Regions from separate parts of the Homo sapiens genome. Here region 2 is linked to region 1. The links come from fine-mapping of genetic effects on gene expression. A gene starts in region 1. The other region holds a variant in brackets. All regions are shown on one strand. Distances are from middle to middle. Region 1 holds the start of RCAN3 (RCAN family member 3). Region 2 holds the start of MYOM3 (myomesin 3).

Region 1 (10,511 bases):
TATTCTCATGCTTATTACATTAGTTTTGCCTCTTCTTGACTTTCATATAAATGAAATCATACATCTATGCGTTTTGACTTCTTTTGCTCAACAATTGCTTTTGAGATTTATCCGTTGTTATGTGTATCAACATTTCATGATTTTTTTTTATTGCTGTGTAGTATTATATTGTTTGAATATACCATGGTTTTCTTATCCATTCCTCTTGTGGACATTTGGGATATTTACAGTTGGAGAATAGTATGATTAAATATTTTGTGTTGTTGATTTGTTTTTGTTTTTTTGAGATGGGAGTCTCTTTTGCTCAGGCTTGAATGCAGTGACACAATCTCGGCTCACTGCAACCTCTGTCTCTCGGGTTCAAGCCATTCTCCCACCTCAGCCTCCCAAGTCACTGGGATTACAGGCACCCGTCACCACACCTGGCTAATTTTTGTATTTTTAGTAGAGACAGGGTTTCATTATGTTGCCCAGGCTGGTCTCAAACCCTAACCCCAACTGATCCACCCACCTTGGCCTCCAAATTGCTGGGATTAGAGGCGTGAGCCACCTCACCCGGCCAAGATGTTAAGAGCATTCTTGTACCAGCCTCTTTTTTGGTAGACATTTCCCTACATTTCTCTTGAGTCTGCATCTAGGAGTGGAATTTCTGGGTCATAGGGTAGGTGTACGTTTAGCTTGATAAACTGGCAGTTTCCAAAAATCAGTTGCATCCTTTTACATTCCACTACTAATGTATGCATGTGAGATGGAGATCTTTTGCCACTTGTATCATTTTCATAGCACAAACCCAAAACAAACCTAATAAGGATTTGTTAGGATATTTACTGTTAAATCTACTCAAATAAGAATAAGAAAATCTGGAATAAGAAAATCTGAAATGAAATCGCTGGTCTGGAAATTCTCCTAAAAGGCAAGAGGTGTGCTACTCGGGATCTGTGGCATTGTCTGAGAGGTTCTACTGAAGTTTTCCAGGGCAGCGAAATGCTTAGCACCCTGGGCATAGGTTTCAACGGATTGAGCCACAGGGATCAATTTCTCTTTTTCTCGGCCTGTAACTCAAACCTCACATGAGAAGGAGAGGGAGGGAGTGTTAGAAATGTGGAACTGTCAAGTTCATTCATAACAAGCATTGATTACCCACCGTGTGGTCATCACCTCGCTAGACACGATGGTAAAAAGGAAGGATGTGGAAGATTCTGTTCTTGCGCTCAAGTTATCGAGTTGCCCACGATCTAGACGATAGATACAAGATGGCAACTCTTCCTCTGTTCACCATGGAAAGGCTGGTGTTTGTTCTTCTAGATTCTGCCTTTTGCCCTTTCTGTGTTCTATTCTACGTGGGCTCCCCGGGTCATTTCATCTGAGCCCGTGGTTTCAACTAACTAACGCGCCTCCCTCCCAAATCACTACTCATTGAGCTCACTCCTAGGCTCCAGATGCATGTTTTCCAACTACTTCCACCCTCAGCTCCTCTCTACTGCTCATGATTTACATACAATTCCTCAGTAAACTGTGTTAACATTGCCTCTGAGATATAGCCAGAATCCTACCATTTCTCATTGCTTCCCCCATCACGACCCTGTCCAAGCCACAGTCATCTGTGGTCTGCACTATGGTGATACTTCTTCCAAACCAATATCAGTACCATAGTGCTGTTGCCTGCCCTTGATTCATTCCCCTTTCTTTTGGTAATAGAGACTTGAATCTCCTTTGTTGAATGTAACCATCAGCATCCCAGCAGATGATTAATCTAAAGGGGGTTTAGTAAAGGTTACATACAGATGTGTGGGCAGGGTTGAGGGAAAAAGCAGGGCTGATGGTGTGATACACTGTGGCAGGCAACAGAGGGGAGCCATTATCACCTCCAGGGTGGATAATTCTGGAGGTGGAGAAGGGAGAATTTACTAGAACTAGGAGAGAGTAGCTGTGTGAAGAAGGCCAGTTGACAGAAGCTTCAATAAATACATGTAGCCAACCTGCAGCGACCCAGAAGGGCAGGGGCCAGAGGAATAATACCCTTACCTTCCTCCTCCTCCAACCCTCGGGTCTCATTTCCAATGTCTTCTATTTGGTGAATTCAACTGTAAGTCAGAGGACAAGGGATCTGTGGAAGCAGTCCATGCAGGTTGGCCTCTTGAGGTTCAAATCAGGAAGGAAAAGGGTGGAGAGTAGGTCTGGAAGGGCCAACAGAAATGATCTAGCACAGGAAGCCACCTCTCCCCAAATCTCAGTCCACGCGATTTGTGAGGAGCTGTCAGAATGTTCCATGCCCCTTCTCAGGAGAGTGGTTTAGTGATGCACGGGTAACACAAGTTAGACCAATGGGATGTAGTCCTGGGACTTTTGTTGACAGCATCAGGGAAAAGAAACTCCCTTTCTGCTGGAAAGGGTGTGATCTGAAATTGTAAGCAGCCATTCTGCCATCTCATGGGGAAAAGGAAGCCTAAGAACGCAAAGTCAACAGGAAATAGAGTCAAGAAATGGAGGCCGGGTGCGGTGGCTCACGCCTGTAATCCCAGCACTTTGGGAGGCCGAGGTGGGCAGATCACGAGGTCAGGAGATCGAGACCATCCTGGCTAACACGATGAAACCCCATCTCTACTAAAAATACAAAAAATTAGCCGGGCGTGGTGGCGGGCGCCTGTAGTCCCAGCTACTCGGGAGCCTGAAGCAGGAGAATAGCATGAACCTGGGAGGTGGAGCTTGCAGTGAGCCGAGATCGCGCCACTGCACTCCAGCCTGGGCGACAGAGCGAGACTCCGTCTCAAAAAAAAAAAAAAAAAATGGAGAGAAAAAACTTAATCCTAATGTCGTAGTTTAAGCCCCTGAATCCGGCCATGCCTGAAGCCCCAAACTTTTCTATTATGTGAGTCAATGCATTCCATTTGCTGCTTAACCCAGTCTGATTGATGTATTCCATGAAAAAAAGAGAATCTTGAATAATACTGGAAAATGCGAACCCCGTTCCCTGAACCATCATGTAGGATTGCTCACTTCTTCCTCTGCTTTGTCAGCACTTTGCAAATGTCTCAGTGCACAAATACAACTGTATCACAATCACTGTCTCCCCCATCTGTGAGCTCCTCAGGTGGCAGATCTCTATGGACCTTACCCTTGCAAGCCCAACACCCACACAGGGCCTAATACCTCAGGGAAACTAAATTAAGCTAATCTGGTTGTTTGACTTAGGATCTCTCAGGGCCATTTTTTTTGTGTGAACGTGCATCAGACATCTCCAGGCAGGGCTATGGAATGCAGCTGTTTCCAATCTCATTTGATGTGAAAACTCAATTTTTTGGCCAGGTGCAATGGCTCACGCCTATAATCCCAGCACTCTGGGAAGCCAAGGCAGGAGGATTGCTTGAGTTCAGGAGTTTGAGACCAGCCTGGGCAACATTGTGAAACCTTGTCTCTACAAAAAGTAGAAAAATTAGCCAGGCATGGTGGCATGTGCCTGTAGTCCCAACTACTCAGGAGGCTGAGATGGGAGGATCACTTGAGCCTGGATGGTTGAGGCTATGATTGTGCCACTGCACTCCAACCTAGGCAACAGAGCAGACCCATCTCAAAACAAACAAAAAAACACCAAAAAAAAAAAAAAAAACAACCCTCAATTTTTGCAAAAGTTGCTGTGTTAGAGGAATTTAGAGAAAAAATAATTACTATAGTCCTTAGAGTGACCTTGACAAAAGAAGCAGCTTGCCATCAATATTAGTTAAACGAATGAAAGTGAAGAACTTAGTTTAAGACAAGATGGGGAGCAGGAGCAGCACGGTTGGAGGCAGCAGGAACCACAGAAGCAGCAAGCAGGAAGTAGGAGGGGCGATCTGCTGGACATACCTCGGTGACTATGCTGGGCTCAACTGCTGGGGAGCCCTTGGGGTCATAATCCAACCCTGATTTCTTAGTTTACATCTAACAGGGATTAGATGTGCTGTACACATTTTAGTCCATCTTCCTGCCCCATGATGCAGGCGCTGAGTGCCTTTGATGTTAAGCTTCACTGTGCCTCACTTTGCCTCTGAAAGGTCTTGAGTGGGTAATGAGAGCTGATTTTCTTCTAACTGCACATTCCTTTTTTTTTTTTTTTTTGAGACGGAGTCTTGCTATGCTGTCCAGGCTGGTCTCAGACTCCTGGCCTCAACCGATCCTCCCACCTCTGCCTCCTGAGTTAGCTGGGACTACGGGTGCGCACCACTGCGTGACTGCGCGTCCTTGTAGGTGGGAGATGAGCCCAGTTATTTTCCCTGCTGTGTGACCCTGCTTCCTTCTCTGCCGGCTAAGGGAAGAGACACCAGCTGCCTTCCAAGTTGGGCTCAGGAGCTTTGTCATCATAGTTGTTATTGGTGGTAATAATACCTGCCAATGTAAGCCTCGGTCCTATCACTGAAACTCGCTCAACAGCTTAGACCCCGGCTCTTCCCTTTGCGTAATAGTTGTAATCATGTCCCATGGTCTCCTAAGGCGTCGGAGACAAGCAAGACTGCGTGGAAGGGTTTTTACACGAAAAAGAAAGCATTAAACATGTGGATTGTATGACAACGGTAGATAGGGCATAGGGTGAAGAGGAGTAAGAGGAGGAGGGAGAGCGGGAGGAGGGAGAAGAGCACGAGTGGGGAGGAGAGGAGGGGAGGGGATGGGAGGGGAGGGGAAGGAGTGGGTAAGGGGAAGAGGGTTGTACCCGCCAGGGCGGGACCCAGCCTGTGCCGTCCCACACCTTGTGCTAGCTCCAGCTCAGCTACCTGCGGCCGCCTCTCCTCGGGCAATGAGGCGCCGGGAAGCCCACAGCATCTGATAATATCCGGGCCGCCGGTTGCCGGGAGGTGAACCGAGGTAAACTCGCCGCGCGCGGGGCGCAGTGTACATAGTAACCAGCCCTGAGTAAACGTTCGTCATATTCCTATGAGCTGCTCCGGGGACTGTCCTACGGGGCTAGCAGGAAAAGGAGATCGGCTCTCTCCGCTCCCGGTGGAAAACGAGAAGGTCGCCAGAGGTCCTGTTTTCGGGGTGATCTAAAGCCCCCGCCCCAGCGCTACAGCCCAAGCCCCCCACAGGCTGGGGACCAGGAACCCGGAGGAGCGGGAGGAGGGCGCGCGCGGCGAGACACCCCCACCCCGGCCCCCGCGCGCCCCCGCCCCGGTCCCCGCCCGGGTCCCCGCCTTGTCCTGGGCTCTGGCGCCTGCGCCGCCGTGCGCGCGCCCTGCCAGAACAGGAGGGGACGAGGCGGGCGCGCGGCGCCGGCAGCCTAGCTCAGCCGGGACACCGCCCTAGTCCCAGCCCAGGGGGCCGCTCTCGCCGGCGTCGAGGGCGTGGCGGCGAGGCTGCTGCTGCAGGCGGCTCCCGGCTCTGCCTTCGGCCCCGCCCGCCGCCCACCAGGCTCCCAGAGGCCCCGCAGCTCGCGCCGTCCGGCTCCCCGCAGCCCCGTCGGGCAGCCCGGGCCCGTCCGCTGCCCTCCCGGCTCCCGTCCTGCGGCGGCGGGGCGTGCAGGTGAGGCCCCACGGCGCCCGGCCTCTCCAGCAGGTTTGCACCCAGCGCGGGGCGGGGCGGGGCGGGGCGGGTGGGGGGGGTGGTGCATGAAAAGTTAAAAAAAAAAAAAAAAAAAAAAAAGCCGCCCCGAGAAGTCCGGGAGGGGTGGGCACTCCGAGCCGCGGGACCGGGAGATGCTACCGCGCGCGACCTCGCCTCCCGCGACCTCGCCTCCCGCCGCACCCTTCTCGCGCGCGGGGTCTAGTCTGGCAGCCTCGAGGGTGGTGTCCCGGAAAACAAAACAAAAATGTTTTGTCTTCTCCACCAACGATTTTCTCCCACCAAGTGTGTTTGACCTTTTGAAAAGCCGACAGGCCCAGCCTGCCTGTGAAGGCAGGAGCGGTGTAGGGGCGCCTGGAAGGTGGAAGCCCCCTGTCTTTCTCCCTTGCCCCGCTTCCCCCACGGTGCGTGGATCACCATCGCATTAGTGACTCCCTAACTTCTTGAAACTTGTCTGTCTGCTTCTGTCCGCCGCCTGGACAGGTAGGGCAGGAGTGATCTGTTCCAGGTTGATTCTTCTAGCTTCCGTGCAAAATCTGATCATCTCCTTTAGAGATTAGGATTCTAGTGTAGGAAGCAATCCAGATCCGTGTTTCAGATACAAACAAGGATTATTTAAAGTGATGTTTTCCTGTAGTGCTGAAAGCCAAAAATATTCGCTTCCACTTGTTGGAAGCCACCAAGTACACCACATTTATTTGAACTTTTCATAGAAGTCTCTGATGTACTATTTGGCAAAAGAAGCAATTGATTTATCTGTAGCTGTGATTACATACGATGTAAAGTAATTTGTTTTAAGACTATTTCATTGGCTTTGGTTCAATATCTTAAACTCTGTAAACACATAATTCAGGAGCCAGATATGCATCACACAAATGTGTTCTTTTTGGTGGGGATTTAAATTGATCTAGAAATGGGCTTTCCATCCAGGAAGACTGTGAAAAGCTTGAAAACTGAGTCTCTTCTTTAGCCAGGTCATCAGCTTTACATTTTACTGCATTGGCAAGCCTTGCCTTTTCTTTTCTCTTCTCTTCTCTTTTCTTCTTTTTGAGACAAGGCCTCGCTCTGTCATCCAGCTGAAGTGCAGTGGTGCAAACACAGCTCACTGCAGCCTCAACTTCCCAGGATCAAGCGATCCTCCCACCTCTCAGCGTCCTGAGTAGCTGGGACTACAGATGCCGGCTAATTTTTTGTAGAGATTGGGTGTCACTATGTTGCCCAGGCTGTTCTTGAACTCCTGGGCTCAAGCCATCCGCCCACCTCTGCCTCCCAAAGTGCTGAGATTACAGGCATGAGCCACCGCACCCAGCCAAACCTTTTCTCTCTTAGCCTGAAAACAGATTTCAGTGCTTTTCTAGGAAACAAGATTTTTCCTGCTGTTGAAATATAACGTTTGTAAAGGTTTCAAACATGTGAACATTAGGTAACAGACAAGAGCAGATTTTATATGGTGTTAGAGTTGTTGGTTGAAGGACTTAAAGCATGAAAAATAGTGTGACGCGGAAATCCATTAGCCTGAAGCCTGTGAAATAATGGAAGCTCTAAAGTTCAACACCGTTTGTTACTTAGAAAAAAAACACAGAAGGTGGAGGTCGGACAGCAATCTCCACTTTTCCCCTAGAATGTAGAGGTTCTATCCAGGGAAAAGAAATTATACACAGCACAACAAATAGCATCAGTCTTATATATCTCAACTTCAGTTATTCTTTAAAACCTGTTGTTTTCATATGTTTTGTAGGCTGGTTTTTGTTGTTTATTTCTATCTGTCTCTTGCTGACAAATTCCTGGTGGAGTGGAACTTCAATTATAACAGGACCAATTCTAGGTTATCTGTGAAAACAAGACATGGGTCATTGAAACATACAAAATACAAAAATCAAATTTTCACCCGTTTTACTTTACTGTCGCACGAAATTTTTCTTACACACAGCTACTAAAAAATAGTACAGTTCTACCTGTAAGTGGTAAATGAGTAGAGAATAGAAGGTAGGGCTTCGTGATAGCCGTTCAGAACTTCGCATTGACGATCCTAAGTGGCTTTTTGTTGTTGCTTTGTTTTTTTTTTTCTCTTTTTTCTTTTTTTTTTTTTTTTTTTTTCTTTTTTTTGAGATCTCCTTCTGTTGCCCAGGCTGGAGTGCAGTGGTGCAAACACAGCTCACTGCAGCCTTGGCCTCCCAGGCTCAAGTATTCCTCCCACCACAGCCTTCTGAGTAGCTGGGACTACAGGCGTGCACCATGTGTTTTTTTGTAGAGACGGGGTTTTTCCATGTTGCCCGGGCTGGTCTCGAACTCTGGAGCTCTGGCAGCCCGCCTGCCTCCGCCTCCCAAAGTGCTGGGATTACAGGCATGAGCCACCACACCAGTCCAAGTGTTTTGTTTTGTTTAACTTAGTTGAAATTTTTAATTTAGAAATTTAAAAAAGGAACTTAGTAGCCCAAAGCACCTATGTTTATTTTATATATTTTATACACTTTATGTATTTTATCTTGTTCATTTTATAAATACAGAAAAACCAAGGGATTTTTCCCAAGGTTATACAGCAGGACACTTGTAGAGCTGATAATGGAGCACTTGTTTGCTTCCAGTATTGTTTGGTAGCATTTTTAACATACAAAAAAAGTGAAAAGTACATCTAGCTAAGATACTGAAATGTTCACCAAGTTGGGAAGCCTATTAATTTGAAAAATTATTATTATTTTAATCCTGGAGGAGAAAGAATTTGCGTTTTCCTGATCAGAACAGAAAATGCAAGATCCATGCCATGTGCTTGACATTTTGCCTTGATAGATGACTTTTGTCACAGGCCTGTTGTGGCAGAGCAGATGGTCATGCTACTTGGAGTTTTTCCACTCATTTGATATTTCCATGAAGAAACAATTTGCCAGAAGCCAGCCGTAGTTAGAGTTGTGCTGGAGATGACGGGAAACCTGGATTAGCACAGACTTTTGCTTACAGGAGCTGGAGGATATCGGTTCAGCCCTTTCTGCTGGGCCAGTCAAGAGTTCCCTGGATTGGTAAACTGAGGAACAGTTTAGTCTTGTGATAGTTGGAGTGGAGCTATAATTATACCACTGCACTCTAGCCCGCATGACAGAGACCCTGTCTCTAAAAAAGGAAAAAGAAAGAAATATAGATATCTTGGGACAAACGACAAATAATTTGACAATAATCTAAAGAAAAATTGAAGGAAAATAGCTAAGACATTATTAGGATAACTGATAAAATTTGAATCCAGATTATGCATTTGACAAATTATGTATTAGATAATAGTATTATATCAATGTTAAATTTCCTGTTTTTGATAATTATCCTATGGGTTATATAAGAAAATGATCTTGTTCTTATACACTGAAGTATTTGGAAGTAAAAGGGGTATGCTCCATCTTTCAATGGCTCAGGAAAATGCATGTCTATAAAAATAGAGAAAGATAAAGCAGATGGTCAAAACAGAAGGAATTGGTGACTCTGGGTAAAGGATACAGCATACCCGAGTTCCTTGTGCTATTCTTATAACTTCTGTTTGAAGTTATATCAAAAAAAAAAAAAAGGTACTCAAAATTGAAGGTAGAAAACAGGAAATGAAGGTGTGATATTCTAAGAATTTTTTTTTTTTTAAGTCAGGTGAAGGATTATTTCCTGTGTTCTGTTTTTTAAAATCTTTTTACGGGTTAGACGAGGGAACTTGAAACAAACAAATCTTATCAAGAATAGGTTGACTTTCTCAAATTTCAAAATCTAGTCAGCCAGAGCTCCCCAACTTACCAGCCTCCAAAAACCCGGGCACAGTATTTTCTCTACCTCTTTTTAATGGGTTGGGAATAGGATAGAAACATTAGTGCCTCTAAGAGATAAGATACAAAGACAGCCCACCTTTAGAGATACTAAAAGTTAAATTGCACTTGGTTTTATCATTTCCCTGCCTAAAAACCCACAATGGCATGCTGATATTGACATGGTTTTTGTGTCAAAACTCTGTAACCCTACTTGCTTGGCAACCTGGCCCATACCTGCCTTTCCGACTGTCTCATGCCACCCCCACCAAACACCTTGCACCCTAGCCATGCCAGATCACGTGACCTTTGTGCATGCTGGTCCTACTGTCTTCCTGCCTTTGTTCATGTCCTGCTGGCTTTGTGTGGAATGCTCCCCATTCTTTTCCTCCTGAAATTCTGTTCATCCTTGAAGTCTCACCATTGCCTCCTTGGGAAGCTATCTCTAATCCCATGCAGAATTCAATTTACCTTTGTCTGTGCTGACATATCAGTGGGGTAACTAAAATACTACCTGCTGTTATTCAGCCTCCCTTATTAAGCATACACTGTGAGCGGGAAACTATGCCAGGGCCTGGGGTTTCACAGATACAGTCTTGTAGCTAGGAGTGATTTGTAAACAAATAATCACAATGTAAGTGTATAACAGAAAAATGAACCAAGCACTGTAAGAGCTAAGTCCACCTGACAACTTTGTCTTGAAGAAAAGATTAATGAAAGCCACAGTGAGATACACTGTCACTCCCTGCCCCGCTTCCGCAGGGCCCCTTTCCAGATTGGAGATTTCTGGCACGATAAATGAGTAAGTTAAAAACAGTTGTTGTACCTGTGGGCCACCCAGATAGATATATTCAATAGAAAGTGAAAAATACGGCTAGGCGTGGTGGCGGCTCACGCCTGCAATTTGGGAGGCCAAGACGGGGGGATCACCTGACGTCAGGAGTTTGAGACCAGCCTGACCAACATGATGAAACCCCATCTCTGCTAAAAATACAAAAAGTTAGCTAGGTGTGTGATGGCATGTGCCTGTAGTCCCAGCTACTCGGGAGGCTGAGGCAGGAGAATCGCTTGAACCCTGGAGGCAGAGGTTGCCAGTGAGCCGAGATTGCGCCAGTGAGCCGAGATCGCGCCACTGCGCCGAGACTGCGCCACTGCACCCCAGCCTGGACAAGAGTGAAACTCCGTCTCAAAAAAAAAAGAAAGAAAAAGTGA
Region 2 (10,511 bases), 390 kb before region 1:
CAGGCCGTGGCAGAGGCTGGGGACACGGTGGGCCACAGGGCCTTTCTCCTTATAAGGGGATTGCAATGTACACATCTCCTTTGCATTCCCAAGGCTCAAGTCTAGGCCCGTGATGGCGCCCAGTGGGGCCGGATCAGATTGACCCAGGGGAGGCTCAGGAAGCGGATCCATGGATATGGAGAGGCAAACGAGGGGTGTGGGAGGCCCGTGTGCCCGCTGGCTGTGGGTTTTTGCACTGAGTTTTCTCATATCCGGGCTTCAGTCACTGCTGGGTCTCTGAGGGCCCCCCTGATGCTAAAGCTAAAATCCCTGGAATGGCTTTCACACCTCCTCCAGGTGGGAATCCTGGTCTGCAGGCTTCTGGCATGGGAGGGTTCCTGCCCAGGCGTGGGGATGGAAACAGAAGAGGGATGACCGCCTGCCTTGGCCTGCTCCTGTCAGCTTCTGTGGGGTCAGCTCTGTCTGGCCCCTGCCTCTCTAGAGGGTCCTGCTGGAGGTGGCAGCGTGTGTGTGTGTGGGCGTGCATGTGTGTGTATGTGTGTGTGTGCGTGCATGTGTAGGCTGTCTTCTGCCTGGATGTGAACACAGCACCTAGGTGACCATTTCTCTAAGTCCATGGCATGGAAGGTGAGCCCACTGGCTTTATTGGAGAGCCGTTGGCCTGGAAGGGGCATGTGGTGGAGGTGTCTGGGGCTCGGGCTGTGGAGGGTCAGTCTTAGTGGGCTTTTACCCCTTCTACTTCCTAGAAGTTTGCTCCTTTTGGGTGTCTGCAGTTGTGGGCATCAGGAAAAAGAGAATGGATGGCTGCAGGGTTAGCTGGGACCAAGGGCTGCCCCCTAAAGCTCCCTGGGCTCCTGCTAATCATCTCAAATGACATAATGGGACAGTCACCCTCTTTGGCTTCGTATCACTCCCTCCCGATGGAAGAAGTTCTCTTTGCACCCAAAGAAGTGGCTAGCCCTGCTCATTCTGCTCTTTCTTCCTCATGGCCCAGGAGGAGAGCTGCTGGGTACCACCCTAGGTGGAGCAAGGACCCCCCACTCTGCCCCAGCTTTCCTGGGACACGATGGCCCTGGCTCCAGTGGCTGAGAGTTAACATTCCCTGGCACCAGCCACTGGCTCCCTTCCCCTGGATGCTCTGTTCCCGATTAGCACAGCAGGCAGGGGCCTGGCGCTCGTCCCTGACCTCGGGGCCTCCAGCAACCAGACCCCTGGCTTTAGCGGATGAGCTACCAATTCTTTTTAAAGCACTGACTGATGCGTGGTATTAAGCAGGGACAAGTTTGCGGCCTCACTGCCCTTTCCCAAAGGACCAGGGTGCCTCTTCCCGGAACACTGTGTGTGCCTGCGTGGAGGGGAAACTGCCCCCGCTTCCCTCTCTTGGGGTGCAAAAATCTGGGCCAGAGGTCCCACTGCGTGGCCTTCCCTATTCCCCTCTGCTTTCCTCCCAAGCCTCCATCTGCCGAGGAGGCCTCTCCCCTTCTTCAGGAGGGAAAGAGGAATGCACAGCAGTTGAGCCAAGACCCCTCCAGGAGCTGCGATGGGGGCGGATGGTGGCTGGGAGCAGAGACACATCCTGCGGGCGGCGGGTGGCACAGGCTGGGACGTGTTCTTAGCCAGTGGCTCCACCAGCTTCCGCGAGGCCGAATCCTGCCCTTGCCAGTCATGAGCTGAGGCAACTCCTTTCCCGTCTGGGCCTCGGTTTCCTGTCAGGCACTGGATGAAATCCCTTCCAGCTCTAAGATTTGGGATCCGAGGGCTCGCTCTCTTTCCCTGCCTGTGGGGTTGGCCAAGCCGGGCTCAGCCAGCTCCGCTCTAAGTTCGTGGAACTTGCCAGCTTAGCCTGGCTCCCGCTTATCGCTGCTCCATCACAGGAAAGACTCCAGTTCCCAGGGCAGCCCCCACTCTTTTTTTTTTTTTTGCAACTTTCACATCACAGACAGCTCAGCTCTCAGAAGACCCAGGGCCACACAGAACAGTGGGATGGGGCAGGGGTTTCTGGAATCCCCTCCCATTTTCACTTGGGTGCTGCCTCAGCACAAATTTCCCAGGCTCCTTTCACAACACACAACACACATACACACAAACACACACACGTGCACACACACACACACATGCACCCACAGATATCACTCCCCAGTGGCTGACTCTTAGGAGGCATCCCTCCCCCACCCTGATTTCTGGGGGTGACTCACAGAAGCAGTGTGCCCACTTAGGAGTCTCTGGGGAGAAGATTCCTGAGGCCGAGAGGGTCCTTGTTCTCTTCTTGCCCTCGGCTCAGCGGGCACCGGGAGAAGAATGCGATCCCGGAGACTGCACCGTCTTAAATATAGCAGCACTGAGACAGTACAATGACAATGGATGAGAACTATGGCATCGGGGACAGGGGGCCAAGGGGAGGGGCCATTCCGTGTCTCCAGCCTGCTGGGCAGCAGCGACAGGTGGAGCTGTCCGCCGCGTCCCCCCACACTGCTCCTCCTCTCAGCTGGGTCCTTTCTGCCCAACCCAAGCCCCTGTTAAAATGGAAAGGAGGGAACGGCTCAGGCATGGTCGTATGGAGGGCAGATCCCGTGCGGCGTTCTCAGCTGTCGGGAGTTCTGATCTGAATTCTGCCCCGGCTGACTGGGTGCCCTGGGGAAGGCGCTCAGCTTCCCTGAACTGACTGCCTTCTGAAAAACGGAGACAGTGAGACTGGGCACCTGGACTTCATGAAGACGGTGGAAGGAATATGACCTAAAAGTGAGTGTTTCGTGCTCAGAAGTTGTCACTGGCTAAAACAGCAATGTGTGGCTCCTGGTCCCTCCACCACTCCGGTAGTTACTACACGGCCCCCGCCCTGACCACAGTCATGTGTGTGTGGTGTGGTGCAGGCAGGAGGAGCTGGGGAGCCACCTACTGCTTCACTGTGCAAACTGCTCAGGCTGCCAGAGTGTCCCCTGAAGGGCCTTCTTATAGGGTAAACGCACCTGACAGGGATAACTGAAGCACGCTCCAAGAATGACCCTGTGTGGAAGACCTGAATATGTGTTCCGAGCTAAGGAATCTGGGGAGTAGCCAACCCGTTTCTTACCTACGATGAATATCTGAGCCCCCGTCCCGTCCCTTCTGGTGGAACGCTGGCCATACAGGGGATTGAGGCCCTGAGTTTTGGGTTAAATGAAGATTGCCAGGTGGAGGTCATTAGGGGATGGTGTAAAGTGAAAATGCTCTATAAACTGCATGCTGTTTGCAAGGGGCTGAGGTTTTCCTGCCCAGTCGGCCGCCACTGGTATGTTGTCCAGCCCGCCGCCCCTGGACCATTTCTGTATGTAAGGCGGTTCTCCTGTCCAGTTCATCACCAGTGGACTCTCTCTCCTGTAGGCAAGCCCCTAACAAACCCCCACGTTCCTTCCTTTCCTTCCTTCCCTTCCTTCTCTCCCTTTCTTTTTCTTTCTTTCTTTCTTTCTTTCTTTCTTTCTTTCTTTCTTTCTTTCTTTCTTTCTTTCTTTCTTTCTTTCTTTCTTCTTTCTCTTTCCTTCCTTCCTTCCTTCTTTCCTTCTTTCCCTCCCCCCCTCCTTCCTTCCTTCCTTCCTTCTCTCTCTCTTTCTTTCTTTCTTTCTTTCCTTCTTTCCTTCTTTCTTTCCTTCTTGAGTCAGAGTCTCACTTTGTTGTCCAGGCTGGAGTGCAGTGGCATGATCTCAGCTCACTGCAACCTCCGCCTCCTGAAACCCCCATGTTCCGTTTGCTGGCTATGGATCTTTTCTTTGGCCTCTCAAACCTGGTGCCTTCCCTACTGAGGTTAATAGGTGTTCGGCACCACACCTCTTCCCACCCTTTGCCCTCTCCTGCCATTCCCTCAGTCTCAATTCTTTCCCCCTCACATTCATTGGCACCTACCCTATGCCAGACCCTAACCTACAGGGGAAGTCAGGCACTTACGACAGGAGGTGATCAGGAAGGTGCACCTGGGTCGAGTCTCAGAGGATGAGCCGGTGAGGGGAAGGCTGTACCGGCCCCTAGCCAGAGAGCACAGCTTCCCTCCCTCACCCCTTCCTGCGACCTCAGGTGGCCACCCACACTACACCTGTCACTCTTGCTGGTGCCTCAGGGACTCCTCACTCGAGAGAAGGAGAGAGAGAGCACAAGTGAACTTTGCAGGCAAAATCTGAATCCCCTGCCCTATTTGAAAACCCCTTTCTAAGCTCTTCTGTGGCTCTCTCTTACAGCATCTTTTGGGAGAGAACATTTCTCTCCCATCTTCTATTGACCCAATCGAACAAGGGCTTTCCAAGACTCATCTTCATACATTTGCTGTGAGGGATGAGTGTGAGTGAATCCGTACGAACAGCAAAGAGGGCTTTGAGCTTCCAACTGAGCAGGAGACAGTCATTTAAACAGGTCCTCTAGCCCCGTCCTCCCAAGGCAATCTGGGGAGATGAATGAAGGTGCACTGGAGAGACAGGGTGCATCCTGGAGTCAAACCGGCTTAGGCTTTCAATTCAGTCCCACCACTTATTAGCTGGATGACCTTGGGGAAGGCACTCAGCCAGTGTGGTTTGATTATCTGTACAGTTGAAGACAACAATTTCCACTTAGCTGTCTCATTGAAAATGTTCAATCAGGCTGGGCATGGTGGCTCACACCTGTAATCCCATCACTTTGGGAGGCCGAGGCGGGTGGATCACCTGAGGTCAGGAGTTCGTGACCAGCCTGGCCAACATGGTGAAACCCCGTCTCTACTAAAAATACAAAAATTAGCTGGGTGTGGTGGGGGCGCGCCTGTAATCCCAGCTGCTTGGGAGGCTGAGGCAGGAGAATTGCTTGAACCCAGGAGGTGGACGTTGCAGTGAGCTGAGATGGCGCCATTGCACTCCAGCCTGGGTGACAGGAGTGAAACTTTGTCTCAAAAAGAAAAGAAAAAAAAAAAGAATAGAAAAGAAAAGAAAAGAAAATGTTCAACCAAGAACCGTGAAACCTCCAGCACGGCGTCTGGCCCCGGACAGACGTTTGCTAAATGAAAGCTCTAGGAATGCTGATGGCTTTCTCTTACCCCATGCTTCTGGGGGTGGGATTCCCATGTATCCCTTTGTTGACCTCACCCCAGTGAAGCACTCAGTCATCACTGGAACCTCTGTAAACATGGCCAAGCCTAAGGTCATGCGGCTGAGCAGAGAGATTAGATGACTTGATGTTATACAAGCCTTGGTTTAAATCCCAACCTCTGGTGCCTCAGTCACTAACAGGGGGACCTTGGCCTCCTTTCTGGGCCTCAGTTTCTTTCTCTGTAGGTGGAGGACACATTCCAAGATAGCAGAGAACTTGCCTGCCTGACCATATCCCTACCCCCGAGAACAGTGCTTGGCATACACCTGGCCCTCAATTCACATTTATTTACAAATGAATCAGTGGGCTGGGCGCAGTGGCTCACGCCTGTAATCCGAGCACTTTGGGAGGCCGAGGCAGGTGGATCATGAGGTCAGGAAATCGAGACCATCCTGGCTAACAAGGTGAAACCCTGTCTCTACTAAAAATACAAAAAATTAGCAGGTCGTGGTGGTGGGCTCCTGTAGTCCCAGCTACTCAGGAGGCTGAGTTAGGAGAATGGGGTGAACCCGGGAGGCAGAGCTTGCAGTGAGCTGAGATGGCGCCACTGCACTCCAGTCTGGGAGACCAGAGAGAGACTCCGTCTCAAAAAAAAAAAAAAAAAAGAAAAATGAATCAGTGAATGGTTACTGTCTTAGTTCGTTTGAGCTGCTACAACAAAATACATTAGACAGGGTCATTTATAAATAACAAAAGTTTATTTCTTACG[G/A]TTCTGGAGACCAAGAAGTTCAAGATCAACGTGCTAGCAGATTCAGTGTCTGGTGAGGACCTGCTCTCTGCATCATAGATGGTGCCTCTTGTGGAGTCCTCATGTGGTGGAAGGGGCTAGGGCACTCTCTTCAACCTCTTTTATAAGGGCATTAATCCCATTCCATTTTTATTTTTTTCCCCGAGACAGGATCTTGCTCTGTTGCCCAGACTGGAGTGCAGTGGTGCAGTCATGGCTCACTGCAGCCTCAACCTCTTGGGCTTAAGTGATCCTCCTACCTCAGCCTCCTGAGTAGCTGGGACTATAGGCACGCACCACCACACCAGGCTAATTTTTGCGTTTTTTGTAGAGACAGGGTCTCACTGTGATGCCCGGGCTGGTCTCAAACTCCTGGCCTCAAGGGATCTTCCCACCTTGGCCTCCCAAAGTGCTGGGATTACTGGCTTGAATCACCACCATGCTGGCCTCTTGATCCCATTATTGAGGGCATAGCCTTCATGGCCTTCCAAAGGGCTCACCTCTTGCTACTATTACATGAAGTTTCAACATATGAATTTTGGGGGGACTCCAACATTCAGACTATAGCAATTGCCTATCTTGCAGAATGGCTGGGAGACTCAGATAAGGTTAAATGTGTAAAATACCTACTATAGTACCTGGCTTATCTTTCTTCTTTCTCCCCTTGCCTTCTTTTCTCTTTTATTCCCTTCCCTGGACTTATGACCATTAAGAACAAACTGACTGCTCTGAACCTCCATGCTGTTTCTCCGACAGCAACCAAGCCTGTGGCTTTCTCCCCCTGTGTGGCGACACTGTACCTGCTTCAGTCTCCCGTCCCTCCCTGTCGCTCTCGGAGTCCAGTTAATTGCAACTGCTGTTCTTCTCATACGGACTGGCCAAAGCATATCTTCCTTACTCCCCCTTCCTCCTTAGAGTGGGAAGGAAAAATGGGCTCAAGTAGCCAAAGGAGCTGAGCAGCAGCTCTGGGGTCTCAGAGTTGTCTCATCAGCGTCAGCACCAGCAGGGGAGGTGGGGGCTGCCTCCATCTCTCTGGCAATACCTGCCTCAGCTTATTGTTTCTGTCCCATGGTCTGGAATGCAGGTGGGGACAGCGACAGGGGACAAGCATTGGTGACATCAGGCCATAGTCTCCCTGTCCAGGTTGACACTCAGACTTGGGAGGGACAGAGGCTCTGGCTGTCTGGAAATCTGGAGGAGCTCCAGTCCTGCTGGTCCAATTCTCTGGGTGGAAACTCAGGCAAGCCCTGTATGTTCCTAGAGTCGGGAGCTTGGGAGGTCAGAGGTTTGCAGGCATCACAGCCATGCAGTACCCCCACCCTCAACTCTGTTGCAACAGCGGGTGTAATGGGGGTCCCTCTAGGGCGCTGATTTGAGGCTATGGAGAGAGAAAGTGATGGTGTAACGGCACTGTTCCCTCAACTTGCTTCAGAGGAATCACCAAAGAAGTTTATGAAAAATGCAGATACCCCCCAGCACTTTGGGAGGCCAAGGTGGAGGATCACTTGGGTCCAGGAGTTTGAGGCTAGCCTGGTCAACAGGGTGAAACCTGTTGACAAAAATACAAAAAATACAAAAGTTAGCAGGCATGGCGGTGGGTGTTTGTAGTCCCAGCTACTTGGGAGGCTGAGGTGAGAGGATCACCTGAGCCAGGGAGGTGGAGGCTGCAGTGAGCTGTGATCATGCTACTGCAATCCAGCCTGGGTAACAAAGTGAGGCTCTGTCTCAAAAACAAACAACCAGATTCCTAGAAACTGTGAGTTTAGCAGGTCTGGGGTGGGCTTGGGGAAGCTGTATTTTTAGTAAGCTTCCCAGAGTATTTTCATGAACTAGGGCAAGTAATCTCTCTGAGACACATTTTCCTCCTTTGCGAAATATCAATAATACAACCTATCATGGAGAGAAGGGTACCAGGAGGATGAATGATCAAGTACATAACGGCCAAGCAACACGGTTGACTTCTTCTCTTTCATATGACTTTGACTACTGCTACTATTATATTACTAGTCATTTATTCCTGGGCTTGACTGTGCCATACCTTGTAGGCAAGTGAAAACTTGGAGAATCACCTCTCTTGCTGGGCAGGGTGGGGCTGTGGAGATTCCTGGAAATGGGATCGGACCCAGGACTCTCAGGAACGATGAGGTCCCCAGCCAGCTCCAGGGTATGCGGACGCTCTGCCTTCTGGCTGGTTCCAGCTCTATCTGCAGGCCTGGGCTGCCTGGGAGGCATGGGACCTCAGGGGTCATGCAGTCTGGTCCCCGCCCCTCAGTGCAGACAGGTCCAACCTGAGGAGGGGTGAGTCACAGACTCGAAGCCATCCATCCCTCTCTTCAGACACTCAGACTCCACCCTCCCAGAATCATTTCTGAAATGTTTGTCACCCGGAGGAGGGCAAAGAGCTTCGTGTTACTGTGAGTTGGAAGAGATATTTATGGCTTTTAATAAAACTTCTTTTTTGAGATGGAGTCTCGCTCTGTTGCCCAGGCTGGAGTGCAATGGCTGGATTTTGGCTCACTGCAAACCCCGCCACCCGGGTTCAAGTGATCCTCCTGCCTCAGCCTCCCAAGCAGCTGGGATTACAGGCGCCTGCCACCATGCCCAGCTAATTTTGTACTTTTAGTAGAGAGGGGGTCTCATGTTGGCCAGACTGGTCTGGAACTCCCAACCTCAGGTGATCCACCCACCTTGGCCTCCAAAAGTGCTGGGATTACAGGCGTGAGCCACTGCGCCTGGTCTTAATAAAAAACTTCTGTAGCTCCTGGGTCTCACTTGGTGAGAATAGTCCACCTGTTAGGTTGTTTTTCACCAATAAACAAGGTGAAGACAGTTAACCTTTGGCCAAGTGTGACCCAAGCAACAGGAAGTAGACTTGTTTGCAGTGGGTGGGGAGAGGGGAGCCGTCATCCGGCTGACTTGGCTGCCGTGGAGGGGTGAATGGGCTGGGGGGGGCTGTCCAGGTAGACCCATCCCTCTGCACGGAGGTGTTGGGTCTAAACCAGTGACACCGAGGAGATGTTAAACATTAATTACCATCAGATAAGAACACCACCACCTGTCACTGTGTCCCAGGAAAGGGGAGGGGTGGGGAAGAGAAGAGGAGATGTACCTGGGAAGAGAAGGACACTGTCCACTCTGGGAAGGGTCCCTCTGAGGTGACTGGTGTTCCATCCTCTTTCTCAGAAATGTTCAGAAAAGGCTTTGGAGGGCAGGTGTGGTGGCTCACGCCTGTAATTCCAACTACTTGGGAGGCTGAGGCAAGACAATCACTTGAGCCCATGAGTTCAAGACCAGCCTGGGCAACATGGCGAAACCCCATCTCTACCAAAAATACCAAAAATTATCTGGGCATGGTGGCATGCACCTGTAGTCCCAGCTACTCGGGAGGCTGAAGTAGGAGGATCACTTGAGTCCAGGAGGTCAAGGCTGCAGTAAACTGTGTTCATGCCACTGCACTCCAGCCTAGGCCACAGGGTGAGACCCTTTCTCCAAAAGGAAAAACAAAACAAACAAACAAAAAGACTTTGGAGCAAGGTGACCAGGAGCACTTTTCTCTTGGGGACCCCATTAGGAGGCCTCCCCTCCTTAGCCTCCACTAGTCTCATCCTCCAAGAATCCAAGCAGGTGTGGAAAGCTTCCTCTCTCGATGAGGACAAAAAGCCCTAGGTTTGCACTCCAACTCTGTCACAGCCTCAATAGTGGGATCTCGGGTAGGTCCCCTCTCCCTCTGGACTTTGGCTTCCTCATGGTAGGGGTCGTCTGAGATGCAGTGATACGGAGGGTATGGCAGCAGTCTGAGAGCACAGAGTGTGCAACACTGCCTCTGTGGGGGATCAGGGAGGCTGGATGGACAGAGGCCGTCTGAGATTACCACTGCCACCCACAATGGCTTCTGCCTACGATCTCAGGGAGAAGGTTCCACATCATTTGTCTCTGAACTCTTGTCTCTAGAAGGCCCTGCAGTCCCTCCTCTTTCCCACCCCAGACCCCTCTGGCTTTGCCTGTCCTGAGGAAATCCAGGTCATTTAAGCCCATGAGAAAATGCCAGGTGTGTCTGAAGCCAATCCGAATTGGGGGAGGGGGTCACTCCTTGTGTAACGTAGTTTAAAAAAAAAATCACAACAGGAAATAGCTACCGTTTATTGGGCACTGCCCATGTACCAGGCACTATTAAGCACTTTAAAGACATGACTTCATTTCATCTTCACCACAACTCCATGAGGTAGGTGTTATGATCCCCACATTACAGATGAGGAAACCGAGGTTCTGGGCACTGATTTCATTTGTTTGAAGTCACACAGCTTGTGAGTGGTGAGGCTGGAATTTGAGCCCAGATGGGCTGAACCCAAGGCAGAGCTTGCAAAGTTGTGACATCAGTACAGTGTGTTATTGTACCCGTCCAGGGGCCACAGCCCTCACCTTCCTTTCAAACCCCATTCTCAGGATAGGGTCTGAAACTCCTGCCTGCAGAAAAGGCTTGTGTGTCTCCCTCCCTGGTGGACCTGCATTTCGCTTTGTTCTATCAGAGGAATGAAGCTGAAATCGTGCAACGTCAGGCAGTTGCCCTGGCTGGGAATGAGCTGCAGGCCACACCCCTCCCTAGAGTCCTGCCGTCCTGCTGGCCCTGGCCTTGGCAGAAGTGCAGGTTGTTCTGGTTCTGCCCAGCCTCCTTCTGGTTCTTTTCCAGGCCTGGTTCTTTTCC

What was found.
Region 2: its variant is fine-mapped to the expression of RCAN3 in tibial nerve (GTEx, PIP above 0.99).

Annotation. Positions count from the first base shown.
Region 1 is chr1:24,497,628-24,508,138 of GRCh38, forward strand. RCAN3 (RCAN family member 3) reads left to right here and starts at 5,209. Exons shown (of 5, transcript NM_013441.4): 1 at 5,209-5,523. It overlaps RCAN3AS (RCAN3 antisense RNA), which reads right to left and starts at 4,755. Exons shown (of 2, transcript NR_144360.1): 1 at 4,721-4,755. RefSeq lists an enhancer at 3,895-3,994 and silencers at 4,598-4,770, 5,052-5,551, 7,058-7,258.
Region 2 is chr1:24,109,836-24,120,346 of GRCh38, forward strand. MYOM3 (myomesin 3) reads right to left here and starts at 2,300. Exons shown (of 37, transcript NM_152372.4): 1 at 2,196-2,300. It overlaps IL22RA1 (interleukin 22 receptor subunit alpha 1), which reads right to left. Exons shown (of 7, transcript NM_021258.4): 7 at 9,936-10,511. RefSeq lists an enhancer at 2,502-3,010. The variant G/A (reference allele first, on the strand shown) is at 5,792.